Linked DNA regions of Homo sapiens: region 2 is reported to be linked to region 1. Evidence: microRNA targets listed by miRTarBase, many of them from high-throughput screens and not tested one by one. Region 1 holds a microRNA gene; the other region holds the end of a gene's coding sequence.

What was found. The annotated mature microRNA hsa-miR-941 reads CACCCGGCUGUGUGCACAUGUGC and lies in region 1 at 5,143-5,165, opposite strand. An mRNA with a match to its seed (bases 2 to 7 or 8) in the 3' UTR can be bound and repressed. Matches are read on the target gene's strand: a 7mer-m8 pairs with bases 2 to 8, a 7mer-A1 pairs with bases 2 to 7 and ends in A, and an 8mer does both.
Region 2: the mRNA of CEP19 is a reported target of hsa-miR-941. Seed matches in the 3' UTR shown: 7mer-m8 at 5,925-5,931.

Annotation. Positions count from the first base shown.
Region 1 is chr20:63,916,444-63,924,659 of GRCh38, reverse strand. MIR941-1 (microRNA 941-1) reads right to left here and starts at 5,211; the gene lies at 5,140-5,211. All of the region lies in intron 1 of DNAJC5 (DnaJ heat shock protein family (Hsp40) member C5), which reads right to left. It overlaps LOC124904951, which reads right to left and starts at 6,901. Exons shown (of 1, transcript XM_047440634.1): 1 at 4,225-6,901. The coding sequence starts at 5,260. The coding sequence ends at 4,322. MIR941-2 (microRNA 941-2) reads right to left here and starts at 5,155; the gene lies at 5,084-5,155. It also overlaps MIR941-3, MIR941-4 and MIR941-5. RefSeq lists an enhancer at 4,204-4,906.
Region 2 is chr3:196,701,399-196,708,927 of GRCh38, forward strand. It overlaps CEP19 (centrosomal protein 19), which reads right to left. Exons shown (of 3, transcript NM_032898.5): 2 at 7,130-7,329; 3 at 4,879-6,514. The coding sequence starts at 7,259. The coding sequence ends at 6,153. It also overlaps the pseudogene RNU6-646P. Among named protein-coding and RNA genes, the nearest start is that of CEP19, 7.1 kb to the right of the region's middle.

The DNA.
Region 1 (8,216 bases):
GGCTGGTCACGGACTCCTGGCCTCAGTCAATCCCCCCCTCGGCCTCCCAAAGTGCTGCGATTACAGGCATGAGCCACCGTGCCCGGTTTTTTGTTTTTGTTTTTAAGTTAAATAGGCATGGTGGCTCATGTCTGTGGTCCTAGTGACACAGGAGGTTGAGATAAGAGGATGGCTGAGCCCAGAAGCTCGAGGCTGCAGTGAGCCATGATCGTGCCACCACACTGTAGCCTGGGTGACACAGTGAGACCTTGTTTCAAAAAAAGAAAAAGAAATAACAAGACCTATGAAATCTGTACGTTGAAAACCACAAATTGCTAAGATACTAAAGATAAGAAAAAGATTCCTCATGTTCACGGATTAGAAGCCTCGATATAAAGAAGTCAGTTCTCCCCAAACTGATCTGTAGACTTGACAGAAGCCTAACCCTAATCCAAGAGGATTTTTTTTTGCAGAAACTGATACTGATTTTTTTAAATGTATAAGGAAATGTAGCAGACAGATTAGCCACAGCAACATTAATAAAAAGAACAAAAGTTAGAGAATTTACCCTATTGATTTCAAGACATATACTATATATCTACAGTAATCAAGACCATCTGGTACTGAGGAAAAGACACACACACAACAGCAGAATCGAGTTCAGATAGATTCATACTGAAAGGCACAGAAGGGGAGAAAATATTTACATTATGTACGTATAAAAAACAATTCACAAGTGGAATAAAGAACTCTTACACAAGTCAATTACTAAGGCAAAAAACTCCATTTTTAAAAACGGCCAGGTCGTTCTGGCTCAAGAGCGCAGAATGACTTGGAGGCAGTGAGAGTGTAGGAACGGATGGACTTGGCAGATTTTCTTTTCATTCTTACCATTTCAGGATAGAATCCAAAATCACTCAACACATAAAGCTGAGAAAATGTTAACTCATTCTTTCTTTTCCCCGCCTGACTTTATTGCCCGGGCTGGAGTGCAGTGGTCACATTTCAGCTCACTGCAACCTTGACCTCCTGGGCTCAGCTGATCCCCCCACCTCAGCCTCCTGAGTAGCTGGGACTACAGGTGTGCAATACCACGCCCAGCTATTTTTTAAAATTTTTATAGAGTCAGGATCTTGTTGGTCTCAAACTCCCAGACTCAAGCAATCCGCCTGCTACAGCCTCCCAAAGTGCTGGGATCACAGGTGTGAGCCACCCTACCCAGCCTAATTTTTTTTTTTAGAAACAAGGTTTTTCTCTGTTGCCCAGGCTGGAGTGCAGTGGTGCGATCTTGGCTCACTGCAGCCTTGAAATCCTGGACTCAAGAAAGCCTCCCTTCTCAGCATCCCAAGCAGCTAAGACTACAGGAATGTGCCACCATGCCCAGCTAACTTTAAAATTTTCTATAGAGACACGGTCTGGCTTTGTTGCCCAGGCTGGTCTCAAGTGATCCTCCTGCCTCAGCCTCCCAAAGTGCCAGGATTATAGGTGCAAGCCACTGCTCCTCACCAAAATGTGACTTATTCTTTTTTTTTTCTTTTTTGAGACAGAGTCTCACTCTGTTGCCCAGGCTGGAGTGCAGTGGTGCAATCTCAGCTCACTGCAACCTCCACCTTCCAGGCTCAAGCGATTCTCCTGCCGTAGCCTCCTGAATAGCTGGGACTACAGGCACGTACCACCACGCCTGGCTAATTTTTGTATTTTTAGTAGAGATTGGGTTTTGCCATGTTGGCTAGGCTGGTCTGGAACTCCTGACCTCAGGTGAGCCACCCGCCTCAGCCTCCCAAAGTGCTGGGGATTACAGGCATGAGCCACCATGTCCGGCTAAAACCTAGATTTTTAGAAAGGAATGAAGACCACTGGAAATGGTAAATACCTAGGTAAAACACCATTTTTTGCTTTTTTGTTTGTTTGGAGACAGGGTCTTGCTCTGTCACCCAGGCTGGAATGCAGTGGTGTGATAAGGGATCATGGCAGCCTCAACCTCTCAGACTCAAGTGATCCTCCCAACACAGCCTCCTGAATAGGTGGGACTACAGGCGTGAGCCACCATGCCAGCTAAGTTTTTAGAAATTTTTTGCAGAGACGGGGTCTATGTTGCTCAGGCTGATCTTGAATTCCTTGGCTCAAGTGATCCTCCTGCCTTGGGTCATGGTCACCAAAGTGCCGAGATCACAGGAGCCAACCCTTTCTGATGTCTATTTTTTTTTTTTTTTTGAGACAGAGTCTCACTCTGTCACCCAAACTGGATGGAGTGCAATGGTGCAATCTTGGCTCCATGCACCCTCCACCACCCAGGTTCAAGCGATTCTCCTGCCTCAGCCTGCCAAGTGGCTGGGATTACAGGCGCGCGCCACCACACCCAGCTAATTTTTTTGTATTTTTAGTACAGATGGGCTTCACCATGTTGGCCAGGATAGTCTTGAACTCCTGACCTCAGGTGACCCGCCTGCCTCGGCCTCTCGAAGTGCTGGGATTACAGGCGTGAGCCACCAACCTGGACTGCCTATTTCCTTGGGGTAATGAGTCCGGGAGTTTGCCACCTGATGTTTGAAGTAGCACCTCACAACTTCATTCTTCCTAAACTTGGTTTAAATTTCAAGGGGGCCGGGAGTGGTGGCTCACGCCTGTAATTCCAGCACTTTGGGAGGCTGAGGTGGTTGAATCACCTGAGATCAAGAGTTTGAGACCAGCCTGGCCAACGTGGTGAAACCTCATCTCTACTACAAATACAAAAATTAGCTGGGTGTGACGGTGTGCATCTGTAATCCCAGCTAGTTGGGAGGCTGAGGCAGGAGGATGGCTTGAACCCGGGAGGAGGAGGTTGCAGTGAACTGAAATTGCACCACTGGACGTCAGCCTGGGTGACAGAGTGAGACCCTGTCTCCAAAAAAAAAACTTTCAAGGGGATCCCATGTCAACAGAAAGGTTATAACACAGTTAAAGGAGAGGCCTGGTGTGCAGCCGCAGCTACACGAGCAGCACGTGCTGCAACCTGCTGCAAGTGACGAGCTGCCATCAGCGTTATTCGCAGTCTTCATTTCTGGAGGGCTAAGTTCCAACCTTCAGTCAGAACTCTTTTTTTTTTTTTTTGAGACGGAGTCTCGCTCTGTCTCCCAGGCTGGAGTGCAGTGGCACTATCTCGGCTTGCTGCAAGCTCCGCCTCCCGGGTTCACGCCATTCTTCTGCCTCAGCCTCCTGAGTAGCTGGGACTACAGGCACCCGCCACCACGCCCGGCTAATTTTTTGCAGTTTTAGTAGAGACGGGGTTTCACCGTGTTAGCCAGGATGGTCTTGATCACCACACCTCGTGATCCACCAGCCTCGGCCTCCCAAAGTGCTGGGATTACAGGTGTGAGCCACCAGGCCCGGCCTCAGTCAGAACTCTTTTAGTGACATCATTATCTTTAAAAAGCAAACAAGGTGGCCGGGCACGGTGGCTCAAGCTTGTAATCCCAAAACTTTGGGAGGCTGAGGAGGGCGGATCACCTGAGGTCAGGAGTTTGAGGCCAGCCTGACCAACATGGAGAAACCCCATCTCTACTAAAAATGCAAAATTAGCCGGGCGTGATGGCACATGCCTGTAATCCCACCTACTCAGGAGGCTGAGGTAGAAGAATCACTTGAACCCGGGAGGTGGAGTTTGCAGCGAGCTGAGACCGTGCCGTTGCACTCCAGTCTGCGTAACAATAGTGAAACTCCGTCTCAAAACAAAACAAAATAAAAAAAAGCAAACAAGGCTTTGGGAGGCTGAGGCAGGTGGATTGCTTCTTGTGGCCAGGAGTTCGAGACCAGCCTGACCAACATGGAGAAAACCTGTCTCTACTAAAAATACAAAATTAACTGGGTGTGGTGGCACACACCTGTAATCCCAGCTACTCAGGAGGCTGAGGCAGGAGAATCGCTTGAACCCTCGAGGGGGAGGTTGCAGTGAGCCGAGATCTCACCACTGCACTCCAGCCTGGGTGACAGAGTCAGACTCAGTCTCAAAAATAAATAAATAAATAAAAATTAAAAATTAAAAGCAAACAAAAAGGGTCACGTTTTACAAATCCAGCGTATCCCAGTCCGTTCTGCTGGCAGCAGCCCCAGGGCCCGCACACATGCCTAGGCAGACAAGACCGCACACGTGCAGGGACGCTGAGCTTCTGAAATGGCGGGGACCCGTGTCCTCCCTCCCTACGCCAGGGCAGCCACTCTATGACCTCGGCTCCTTCACAGCCCTGGCTGTAGCCTGAGGCCCCCGCATGGCGGGCATCCCCACCAGACGTTGGCGGACGAGAGCCCTGCTGACGCCAGCCCCTTCCCCCACCACACCCACCACACTTCCCGGTCCGACGCAGGACTACCTGTTCCCGGGCAGACACAGAGCACAGAGTGCCGGGTCCCACGTCAGCCCCTGACGCACCTGCCGTCTCTTCAACACCCTGCCCTGCTCCCTGCTGGCTGGAGAGCCCTCACTCAGACCCCAGAGCCCTGAGCCTGCTCTTGGGAACCTCCCCTGCCACACAGCCGGGTGCGTCCTCTTCCGTGGCGCTGTCCTGTGCGTCCTCTTCCGTGGCGCTGTCCCGGGCCCTGGGCACATGTCCACACAGCCGGGTGCGTCCTCTTCCGTGGCGCTGTCCCGGGCCCTGGGCACATGTCCACACAGCCGGGTGCGTCCTCTTCCGTGGCGCTGTCCCGGGCCCTGGGCACATGTCCACACAGCCGGGTGCATCCTCTTCCGTGGCGCTGTCCCGGGCCCTGGGCACATGTGCACACAGCCGGGTGCGTCCTCTTCCGTGGCGCTGTCCCGGGCCCTGGGCACATGTGCACACAGCCGGGTGCGTCCTCTTCCATGGCGCTGTCCCGGGCCCTGGGCACATGTGCACACAGCCGGGTGCGTCCTCTTCCGTGGCGCTGTCCCGGGCCCTGGGCACATGTGCACACAGCCGGGTGCGTCCTCTTCCGTGGCGCTGTCCTGTGCGTCCTCTTCCGTGGCGCTGTCCCGGGCCCTGGGCACATGTCCACACAGCCGGGTGCGTCCTCTTCCGTGGCGCTGTCCCGGGCCCTGGGCACATGTGCACACAGCCGGGTGCGTCCTCTTCCGTGGCGCTGTCCCGGGCCCTGGGCACATGTGCACACAGCCGGGTGCGTCCTCTTCCGTGGCGCTGTCCCGGGCCCTGGGCACATGTGCACACAGCCGGGTGCGTCCTCTTCCGTGGCGCTGTCCCGGGCCCTGGGCACATGTCCACACAGCCGGGTGTGTCCTCTTCCGTGGCGCTGTCCTGGGCCCTGGGCACATGTCCACACAGCCGGGTGCGTCCTCTCCCCGGACACGTCGGTGCCATCACAGCTCAGCATTCATTTGCTCAACAGTTACGATGCATCGATCACATGCCTCGCTCTGTTCTCAGAGCTGGGGACTCAGTGGTAACAAAATAAACCAAACAGGCAAAAATCTCCGCCTGCGGCAGCTTGCAGTTTAGCAGGTCCCTGCTCCTCAGAATGCAGCAGCTTGCAGTCTAGCAGGTCCATGCTCCTCAGAAGACTTAAAGATCTTCAGGGGTAAAAAAATAAAATAAAATACGTGTGTTCTTATTTCTGTACTTCCAGGTGCAATCTCAGTGTGTGCAGCAAACGTTTTATAAAAGAGCTGCTGCTGAACTCAAACTACTGTTGGGGAAAAACTGTGGCCAACTTTGTAAGAACAGATATGAAAACATCTTAAAAGGAAGTCTATTTTTGTTCTGTTTTAAATATTTTACTATGTATTATGTGAAATACAGAAAGAAATATATGGAACATATCAGCCGGGCGTGGTGGCTCACGCCTGTAATCCCAGCACTTTGGGAGGCCAAGGCGGGCGGGTCACAAGGTCAGGAGATCGAGACCATCCTGGCTAACACAGTGAAACCCCGTCTCTACAAAAATACAAAAACATTAGCCAGGCATGGTGGTGGGCGCCTGTAGTCCCAGCTACTCGGGAGGCTGAGGCGGAGAATGGTGTAAACCTGGGAGGTAGAGCTTGCCGTGAGCCGAGATCGCGCCACTGCACTCCAGCATGGGTGACAGAGCGAGACTCCGTCTCAAAAAAACAACAAAAAATATATGGAACATATAAATTATGACGCATAAACACCATGATCCCGTCTCTAATTTAAAAACTGGAAAATTATCAATAACTTGGAAGTTTCATTTTCCCCATATATACCTTAAATTCAATGCTATTCTCTTGCTTCTAAAAAATTACCTCATGTTTATCCCTAAACGCTAATTAGTTTTAATTTTTTGAGCTTAAAAATACGGCCTAGCACTGGATTTACTTTTCTGTAATCTGCTTTTTTTTTCCTTTGAGACAGGGTCTTGCTATGTTGCCCAGGCTGGCCTCAAACTCCCAGGCTGAAGTGATCTCCCACCTTCAGGCTCTGAGTAGCTGGGACTATAGGCACACAGCATCGTGCCTGGCTTGATCTGCTTCTGAAACGCCTACGTTCCTAAGATTCGTCTACACTGCAGATTGTAGCTACAATTCATTCATCTCCAGTGTGGTCACATTCTATTCTGTGAATAGACCACAACTGATCCATCCACTCTTGCACCGAAGGACATCTGGGCTGTTCTCAGCTTCTGTTACCACCAAGTTGCTTGGAACATTCCTGAGCAGCAGGCGCGGTGGGTGGCGAAGGGCGGACAGCGTGAAGCTGATGCAGCTACCGTGAGCAGCACAGACACTGGCAGGAGGAGTGGGCGACCGTCACAGCAACAAGCAACTGAGGCGTGAGAAGACAGGCAGTGCCCCCACTCCCTGGGAAATGCAAATTAAACCACAGAGCACTACTAGGTACACACCTATCAAAACTGCTTAAAAAATAATCCCAGAACTTTGGGAGGCCAAGGTGGGCAGATGGCTTGAGGTCAGGAGTTCAAGACCAGCCTGGTCAACATGGTGAAACCCTGTCTCTGCCAAAAAATACAAAAATTACCTCGGTGTGATGGCGCATGCCTGTAGTCCCAGCTACTCAGGAGGCTGAGGCAGGAAAATCGCTTGAATCCGGGAGGCAGAGGTTGCAGTGAGCCGAGATCGCGCCACTGCACTCCAGCCTGGGCGACAGAGCAAGACTCCATCTCAAAAAAAAATAATAATAATAAGGCTGGATGCAGTGGCTCATGCCTATAATCCCAGAACTTTGAGAGGCCAAGGTGGGCATGTCACTTGAGCTCAGGAGTTTGAGACCAGCCTGGACAACACAGCGAAACCCCATCTCTACAGAAAATACAAAAGTTCTGCATTTTTTGTATTGCACCTGCAGTCCCAGTTACTCGAGAGGCTGAGGCAAGAGAATCGCTTGAACCCAGGAGGCGGCGGCTGCAGTGAGCCAAGATCACACCATGTATTCCAGCCTGGGCAACAGAGTGAGACTCCATCTCGAAAAAAAGAAAAAAGCTAATTTTAAAAAAGTAATAGAAGCCAGGTGTTGTGGGAAGTCAGGGACCCTGAACAGATGGACCGGCTGGAGCTGTGGCAAAGGAACATAAATTGTGAAGATTTCATGGACATTTACCAGTTTCCAAATAATACTTTGATAATTTCTTAAGCCTGTCTTACTTTAATCTCTTAATCCTGTTATCTTCATAAACTGAGGATGTACATCACCTCAGGGCCACTATAATTGTGTTAACTGTACAAACTGTAAAACGTGCGTTTGAACAATATGAAATCAGTACACCTTGAAAAAGAACAGAATAATCGTGATTTTCAGGGAACAAGGGAAGACAACCATAAGGTCTGACTGCCTGTGTGGTCAGGCAAAATACAGCCATATTTTTCTTCTTGCAGAGAGCCTATAAGCGGACGTGCAAGTAGGGAAGATATCACTAAATTCTTTTCCTAGCAAGAATTAATACTCTGGGAAAGGAATGCATTCCTGGGGGGAGGTCTACAGAAGGCTGCTCTGGGAGTGCCTGTCTTATGTGGTTGAGATAAGGACTGAAATACGCCCTGGTCTCCTGCAGTACCCTCAGGCTTACTAGGATTGGGAAACCCCACCCTGGTAAATTTTTGGTCAGACTGGTTCTCTGCTCTGGAACCCTGTTTTCTGTTGTTTAAGATGTTTATCAAGACAATACATGCACCGCTGAACACAGACCCTTATCAGGAGTTCCACTTTTGCCCTTTGCCTTGTGATCTTTGTTCTCCTTTTTGCCCTTTGAAGCATGTGATCTTGTGACCTACTCCCTGTTCTTGCACCCCCTCCCCT
Region 2 (7,529 bases), not on the chromosome of region 1:
AACGATTCTCCTGTCTCAGCCTCCCAAGTAGCTGGGATTACAGGCATGTGCCACCATGCCTGGCTAATTTTGTATTTTTAGTAGAGACGGGGTTTCTCCATGTTGGTCAGGCTGGTCTCAAACTCCCAACCTCAGGTGATCTGCCCACCTCAGCCTCCCAAAGTGCTGGGATTATAGGCATGAGCCACTGCACCTGGCCTATTCTTTATTTCTTTTAGAGACAGCGTCATTCTGTCTCTCACCCAGCCTGGAGTGCAGTGGAATAATCATAGCTCACTGCGGCCTTGAACTCCTGGCTCAAGCAATCCTCCTGCCCCAGCCTCCCAAGTAGTTGGAACTACAGGTGTGCTAATTTTTTAAAATTTCTGTAGAGATGGGCAGGGAGCACTCTCACTATATTGCCCAGGCTGGTCTTGAACTCCAGGCCTCAAGCAATCCTCTCACCTCGGCTTCTCAAAGTGCTGGGATTACAGGCATGAGCACACCGTGCCCAGAGATTTATTTAGATCAGTCAGGATTTGCCTCCGGATCTGAGACTTGTGTGGGAGGCTTATACTTGAACAACAAAATTGGACTTCTGCAGGCAATAAAGAAGGAGATTAAGGATGTTGAGTAGGTAATCAGCAGTATCTGCTATAGTGTGAAATGGTGGACCATTGAGAGGAAGACTTTATAAACACTTTTCAGCTTGAAGGTCGCTAATTTAACCATTAACGGTCTCTTCTTGTAAATTTGACCATGGGAAGTTCTTTTGTTAGTTTGTCGGTTGTTTTTTCAGGGGAGATGGTGAGGATGGGGGAGATTCTTTTTAATTTCTAACTCCTGGCCGGGTGCAATGGCTCACGCCTGGAATCCCAGCACTTTGGGAGGCCGAGGTGGGCGGATCACAAGGTCAGGAGTTTGAGACCATCCTGACGAACATGAAACCACGTCTCTACTAAAAATAAAAAATTAGCTGGGTGCGGTGGCTCACGCCTGGAATCCCAGCACTTTGGGAAGCCGAGGCGGGCGAATCACTTGAGGTCAGGAGTTCAAGACCAGCCTGACCAACATGGTGAAACCACATCTCTACTAAAAATACAAAAATTAGCCAGGCATGGTGGCGGGTGCCTGTAATCCCAGCTACTCGGGAGGCTGAGGCAGGAGAATCACTGAACCTGGGAGGTGGAGGTTGCAGTGAGCCAAGATCTCACCACTGTACTCCAGCCTGGGCGACAAAGTTAGATTCCATCTCAAAAAAAAAAAAAAAAAAAAAAGTAACTCCTGGATTATCCATTTTTGTTTGACATCCCCAGAATATACTTTCTCCATCTATGTTGAACATATCCAACCTTAGCCTTGCATCTGAAAAAAGGTCCTCTGCTCACCTGCTCTTTTCACCCTAACTACTCCCTCTCTCCTATGCTTCTTCCCATCTCGCTCTAATCCCATGGCTCTGCTTGCGCCATTTAGGGGAACACAGAAATCGTTAACCTCAACCTGCTGTCGGCATCATAAACTGACCTGACCATAACTACATCAGTCTTTTGTCTTGTTCTTCCTTCTCCTTGAAAGCTGTCTGTTTCCAGACATCCTGAGGAGTTTCCACAGAGTAAATACTCAAAAGTGTTTACTGAATAAATGCATTTATTCTGTCCCTTCTCCAGCCTTTTTCAACCTCCACCTTTGTGTGGGCGCAAGGAATTTTTACATGTATTTTTGGTCCCCCTTGCTCAGTCTTCAAACAATGGTCTGCAGACATTTGTTTTCTATTTTTTAACAGCTTTATCGAGACATAATTTATATAGCTCAGTATATACCATAACATTTACCTGTTTTTAAGTGCACAAATCAATTCAGTGAATTTATAGAATTGTGAAAACAAGACACAATCCAGTTTTAAAGTGTTTGCATCAACCTCCAAAAAATCATCTCCCATCCCCAGCCCCAGGCAGCCATAATCAATTCCCATCCCCAGACCCAGGCAGCCATAATCAATTCCCATCCTCAGCCCCAGGCAGCCATAATCAATTCCCATCCCCAGCCCCAGGCAGCCATAATCAATTCCCATCCCCAGCCCCAGGCAGCCATAATCAATTCCCATCCGCAGCCCCAGGCAGCCATAATCAATTCCCATCCCCAGCCCCAGGCAGCCATAATCAATTCCCATCCGCAGCCCCAGGCAGCCATAATCAATTCCCATCCCCCGCCCCAGGCAGCCATAATCAATTCCCATCCCCAGCCCCAGGCAGCCATAATCAATTCTCATCCCCAGCCCCAGGCAGCCATAATCAATTCCCATCCGCAGCCCCAGGCAGCCCTCATCTGCTTTCTGTCTCTATAGAGCTGCTTTAAAAAAAAATATTTCATGGCCGGGTGCAGTGGCTCATGCCCGTAATCCCAGCACCTTGGGAGGCCAAGGCGGGTGGATCACCTGAGGTCAGGAGTTTGAGACCAGCCTGGCCAACATGGCGAAACCTCATCTCTACTAAAAATACAAAAATTAGCCAGGCGTGGTGGCGGGCGCCTGCAGTCCCAGCTACTGGAGAGGCTGAGGCAGGAGAATCGCTTGAATCTGGGAGGCAGAGGTTGCAGTGAGCCAAGATCACATCACTACACTCCAGCCCGGGCAACAGAGTGAGTCTCCATCTCAAAAAAAAAAAAAAAAGAAAAGAAAAATCTTGTGGGGAATGCCTTTCTACGTATGACAAAAGGTGCAGATGTGTAGAGAAAAATATTCATAAATTTTACCACATTAAACAATTCTACCAGGAAAAAATATCAAATTTTTTTAAATGACAAGGTGGAAATATTTGCAACTTATTTCATAGACTAAGGACTAATTTCCTTGATAAACAACTTTTATAAATCTGTAAGAAAAAGACCAGCAACCCAATAAAAAAATGAACAAAGGACTTAAGTTATTTCATAAAAAATGGGTCTTGGCCGTGTGCGGTGGCTCACGCCTGTAATCCTAGCACTTTGGGAGGCCGAGGTGGGCGGATCATGAGGTCAAGAAATCAAGACCATCCTGGCCAACATGGTGAAGCCCTGTCTCTACTAAAAATACAAAAATTAGCCTGGCATGGTGGTGCATGCCTGTAGTCCCAGCTACTCAGGAGGCTGAGGTGGGAGAATTGCTTGAACCCAGGAGGGCTGCAGTGAGCTGAGAGGTTGCAGTGAGGTTGCAGTGAGCTGAGATCGCACCACTGCACTCTGGCCTGGCGACAGAGCGAGACTCAGTCTAAAAAAAAAAAAAAAATGGTTCTTAAATATATGATACTCAGACCCCCTCAAAATAAGAGAAATGCAAATCAAAACTATAAGATACCATTTTTATATTAGAATATTGGCAAAACTCAAAAAGTTTGATAACATTCTCCATTGATGAGTATATGGGGGAAATGGGTACTCAAATGTATTGCTGATAGTTTAAGTTGGTACAACCTTCGTGGTAAGTACTACGCATTGGTAAAATGCACTCCAACCTCATCTCCTACCATTTCTTCTCTTGCACAATTTGTATTAGCCACATTGGCCTCCTGCTCCTCCTCAAACATGCAAGGCACACTCCAGCCCCAGGGCTAATACACTTACCTTTCCCCGCTAATCCTGAAATGCATACCAATTTTTCCTTGCCTCCTTCAGGCCTTTGCTCATCATGTGATCTAAAACAGTGGCTCCCATCCCCTCTATCATTCTCCTTTTCATCCCATTTTGAGCACTTACCATCTGATGACACTATTCTATGCATTTATGTCTCTGCTCTCCAACTGTAAACCCAGGACTTTGCTGTATATACTGCTGTAACCCCAAACTCCAGAACAGTACAGGCTTAGAATGTAGTAAGTGCTTATTAACTACAAATAATGAATGAATGAACGTCTATTGGTGACAACTTAGTATCTATTAAAACTTAGAATGCACATACTTAGTAATTCCCCTTTAGGCATTTATCTAATAGATATCCTTGCATATGTGCAAAACAGAGAATGTACAAGGTTATTTGTTGTAGCACTGTTTGTAGTCATGAAAGGAGAAAACAACCCAAGGATAAATTTTTTTTTTTTTTTTTGAGACAGAGTTTCACTCTTGTTGCCCAGGCTGGAGTGCAATAATGGCATGACCTCGGCTCACCACAACCTCCACCTCCCGGGTTCAAGCGATTCTCCTGCCTCAGCCTCCGGAGTAGCTGGGATTACAGGCATGCACCACCACACCCGGCTAATTTTGTATTTTTAGTAGAGACGGGGTTTCTTCATGTTGGTCAGGCTGGTCTTGAACTCCCAACCTCACGTGATCTGCCCGCCTCAGCCTCTCAAAGTGCTGGGATTACAGGCATGAGCCACTGCGCCCAGCAACCCAAGGACAAATTTTAAAATAAGTTACCTATAGCCAGGCACAGTGGCTCACATCTGTAATCCTAGCACTTTGGTAGGCTGAGGTGGGTGGATCACTTGAGCCCAGGAGTTCCAGACAAGCCTAGGCAACATGGTGAAACCCTGTCTCTACAAAAAATACAAAAATTAGCCAGGTGTGGTGGTGGGCACCTGTACTCACAGCTACTTGGGAGGCTGAGAGGGGAGGCTCACTTGAGCCCAGGAGGTTGAGGCTTTGGTGAGCTGTGATCATGCCACTGCACTCCAGCCTGGGTGACAGAGTGAGACCCTGTCTCAAATAAAAAATAAACTACCTATATCTATACAATAAAGAATAAAGGAATACTATGTAGATATGGAAAGATCTCTAATTCAGAAAATTATTTGGCTCCCTTTGGCTACTGTATGTATGAGATCTGACTATTTCAAAACTCTGGTGATATCACTACAAGAATGAGCTCCCTTTTAATGAAGTGCTTAATGGTAAGGAGAGTGGAAGTGAACAGGTAGAAACACTGAGTAATTATTTTCAGTTTTATTTAATAAACATCAATTTCCTTGTAGAAAACATAGAATTTCTACCAACTAAACAATATTGTAATAAGGATAAATGTATCAAATCACAGATAATGTTGTTAAACGAAGATGCTGTCTTGCAGATCCATTCATGAACAGGCCTAAACTGGCAGTGCCTATTGTTCATTTATTATGGGTGGATTTCCCATTTTACAAACAAACCTTTTATTTATGGGAAGAGGTTCAGCGTTTCGCAATGTCTTTAGTATGTATTTCCCGATACCGGAGGGGCAGAATTCCCCCTCTGTCCATCAAGTGACATCTGCTTGCAGCTGTAGGGAATTTTGCAGGGTACTCTTTTCCAGAGATAAATAATATAAAGATATAACACATAAGAGGTAATTCCCTGGTAACCATATATGTCCCCCAATCTTGTCTTGTCAAACTATAATTTGCTTATGGTTCCTCAAAAAAAAAATTGTTTCTTGTCCCTTTACTACTTCCCCTCTCCTTCTTTTCAGTTGCTCTTATCAGGAATCCTACACAAGCATCTACCTAAACACTACTATTTCAAGGGCCAGGCCACCTCCTATCTCTTTACTAAAGGACAAAGTCTTCCCTTACTATTCTACTCTACAGTAATATATGCTCTGGCCTTCTTTAGCCTTTATCATGCATTTGGCACTAATGTTTGTGTTGCTTAATACTGCTAATTAGCTTTTCACAGGTTTTGACATCTTCCAGTCAGATTGTAAGCTTTTTTTTTTTTTTTTTTTTGAGATGGAGTTTTGCTCATCGCCCAGGCTGGAGTACAATGGCGCGATCTCGGCTCACTGCAACCTCAGCCTCCCAGGTTCAAGCGAATCTCCTGCCTCAGCCTCCTGAGTAGCCGGGATTACAGGCACCCGCCACCACGCCTGGCTAATTTTTGTATTTTTAGTAGAGGCGAGGTTTCACCATGTTGGCTAGGCTGGTCTCGAACTCCTGACCTTAGGTGATCCACCCGCCTCAGCCTCCCAAAGTGCTGGGATTACAGGCGTGAGCCACCGCACCCGGCATGATTGTAAGCTCCTTAAAGGCAGATTCCTTTATTCTGTTTTTCCCATACTCCTCATGCACCTACATAGTAGATGCTTTAAATGTCCTGGTTTTGAAAAGTAACATGGTCAATCCCCTATAACCCAACATATTTAGTATTCTTTACAGCTTCTTCCAGAACCAGTCTGGTAATAAACATGGATATTCTGCTAGCCCAATGCATGTTTTGAGTGTTTGGTATCAGAACTCATCAGCTGACTCTGTGTCCCAGCCACAGGACTGCAGTTGATCGTCCTGTGGAAATTCAACCTCAATGTCATAAACAAAATTTGGATCATCCTTCTTCTTCTGATTTTTCTCAAAAAGTTCATCCATGATGCTCTTTCTTTTGGCAAGCTCCTTGTCATCTAGTTTGTTCAGGTCTTCCTCAGGATCAATGGTTGTTTCCCGTTGAATTTGTTCCATTGTTTCTGCCAGACTCTGCCCCGACAAGTAACCTCGTAAAAAACTGAATAGCTTCTCTAGCTGCCTCAGGGATACTTGTTCTAGGTAACTCTTGTGTCGCGGATTATTCTTTAATTGTTCAGCAGCTCTGGTGCAATCTGGGAGAGAGAAGAAAACTATATACCACATACGTACCACGTACATCATATACGCCATAAACTACTGCAACAGCCAAAACAGAACAAAAACTCTGAACCCTGAAAATATTATCTCCATTATAGTCAAGTAGCTAAATGGCTTGATTGGAATGAATTACTTTGTAGAACCATTCCTTTATATTGAGCTTTCAGTGTGGTGGGAGAAGGACAGATACAGTTTTGACTTCTTTAACTTAAAAATCACTTTGTAGAGATATTAAACACTTTCAACTGGAGAATATGTCTGAGAAGAAAAGTGATATTATAGCTTTTAGATAGCAGTAGTGGTATTAATAAAATATTAAGACTACAAATAAAAAACATTTGGAATGAGAGAAGGGAATTAATATTATTGAATAATGCTATATCATTTAACCTAGGCAGCAATCCCAAAAGGATTATTAATTATCAGATTGGAAAAAAACACTACAATTCCCTTTTATAGATTAGGAAACTGAAGCTCACTGAGAGTAAGTAATTCATCCAGTGTCACACATCCAGTCCCTGACAGAGTCATGATGTGAACCTGTATTTAGAGAATATTTAAGACAGGAGGCAAGATAAGACATGAGGTACCTGAAAACTTTGAAAAGTTTCGAACTGGCATAATGCGCTGGCGAATTTTCCCCTTGATTTCACTCTCATAGATTAAGATAATAGCTGGAGGCTGAAACCTAATCCCACATTTCTTGGCAGTGCACATCATTCCCATGTACATGTCCGGGTAAGTCAGAGGAAATCTGATGAATATGTGTAAGTTGCATAATGACTTCCTGCTAAAGGGAAAAAACAACTAGGTGTTGGATAAATGTCATTCATTCCCCTCGCCCCTTTGCCCCAGAAGATCTGGTTCTAGTCCGGCTCTGGCCACACACGCTCAGCCTGTGAAACTCATTTTTTTTAAAATTAAAATACGGACTGCTTCATGAATTTGTGTGTCATCCTTGCGCAGGGGCCATGCTGATCCTCTCTGTAT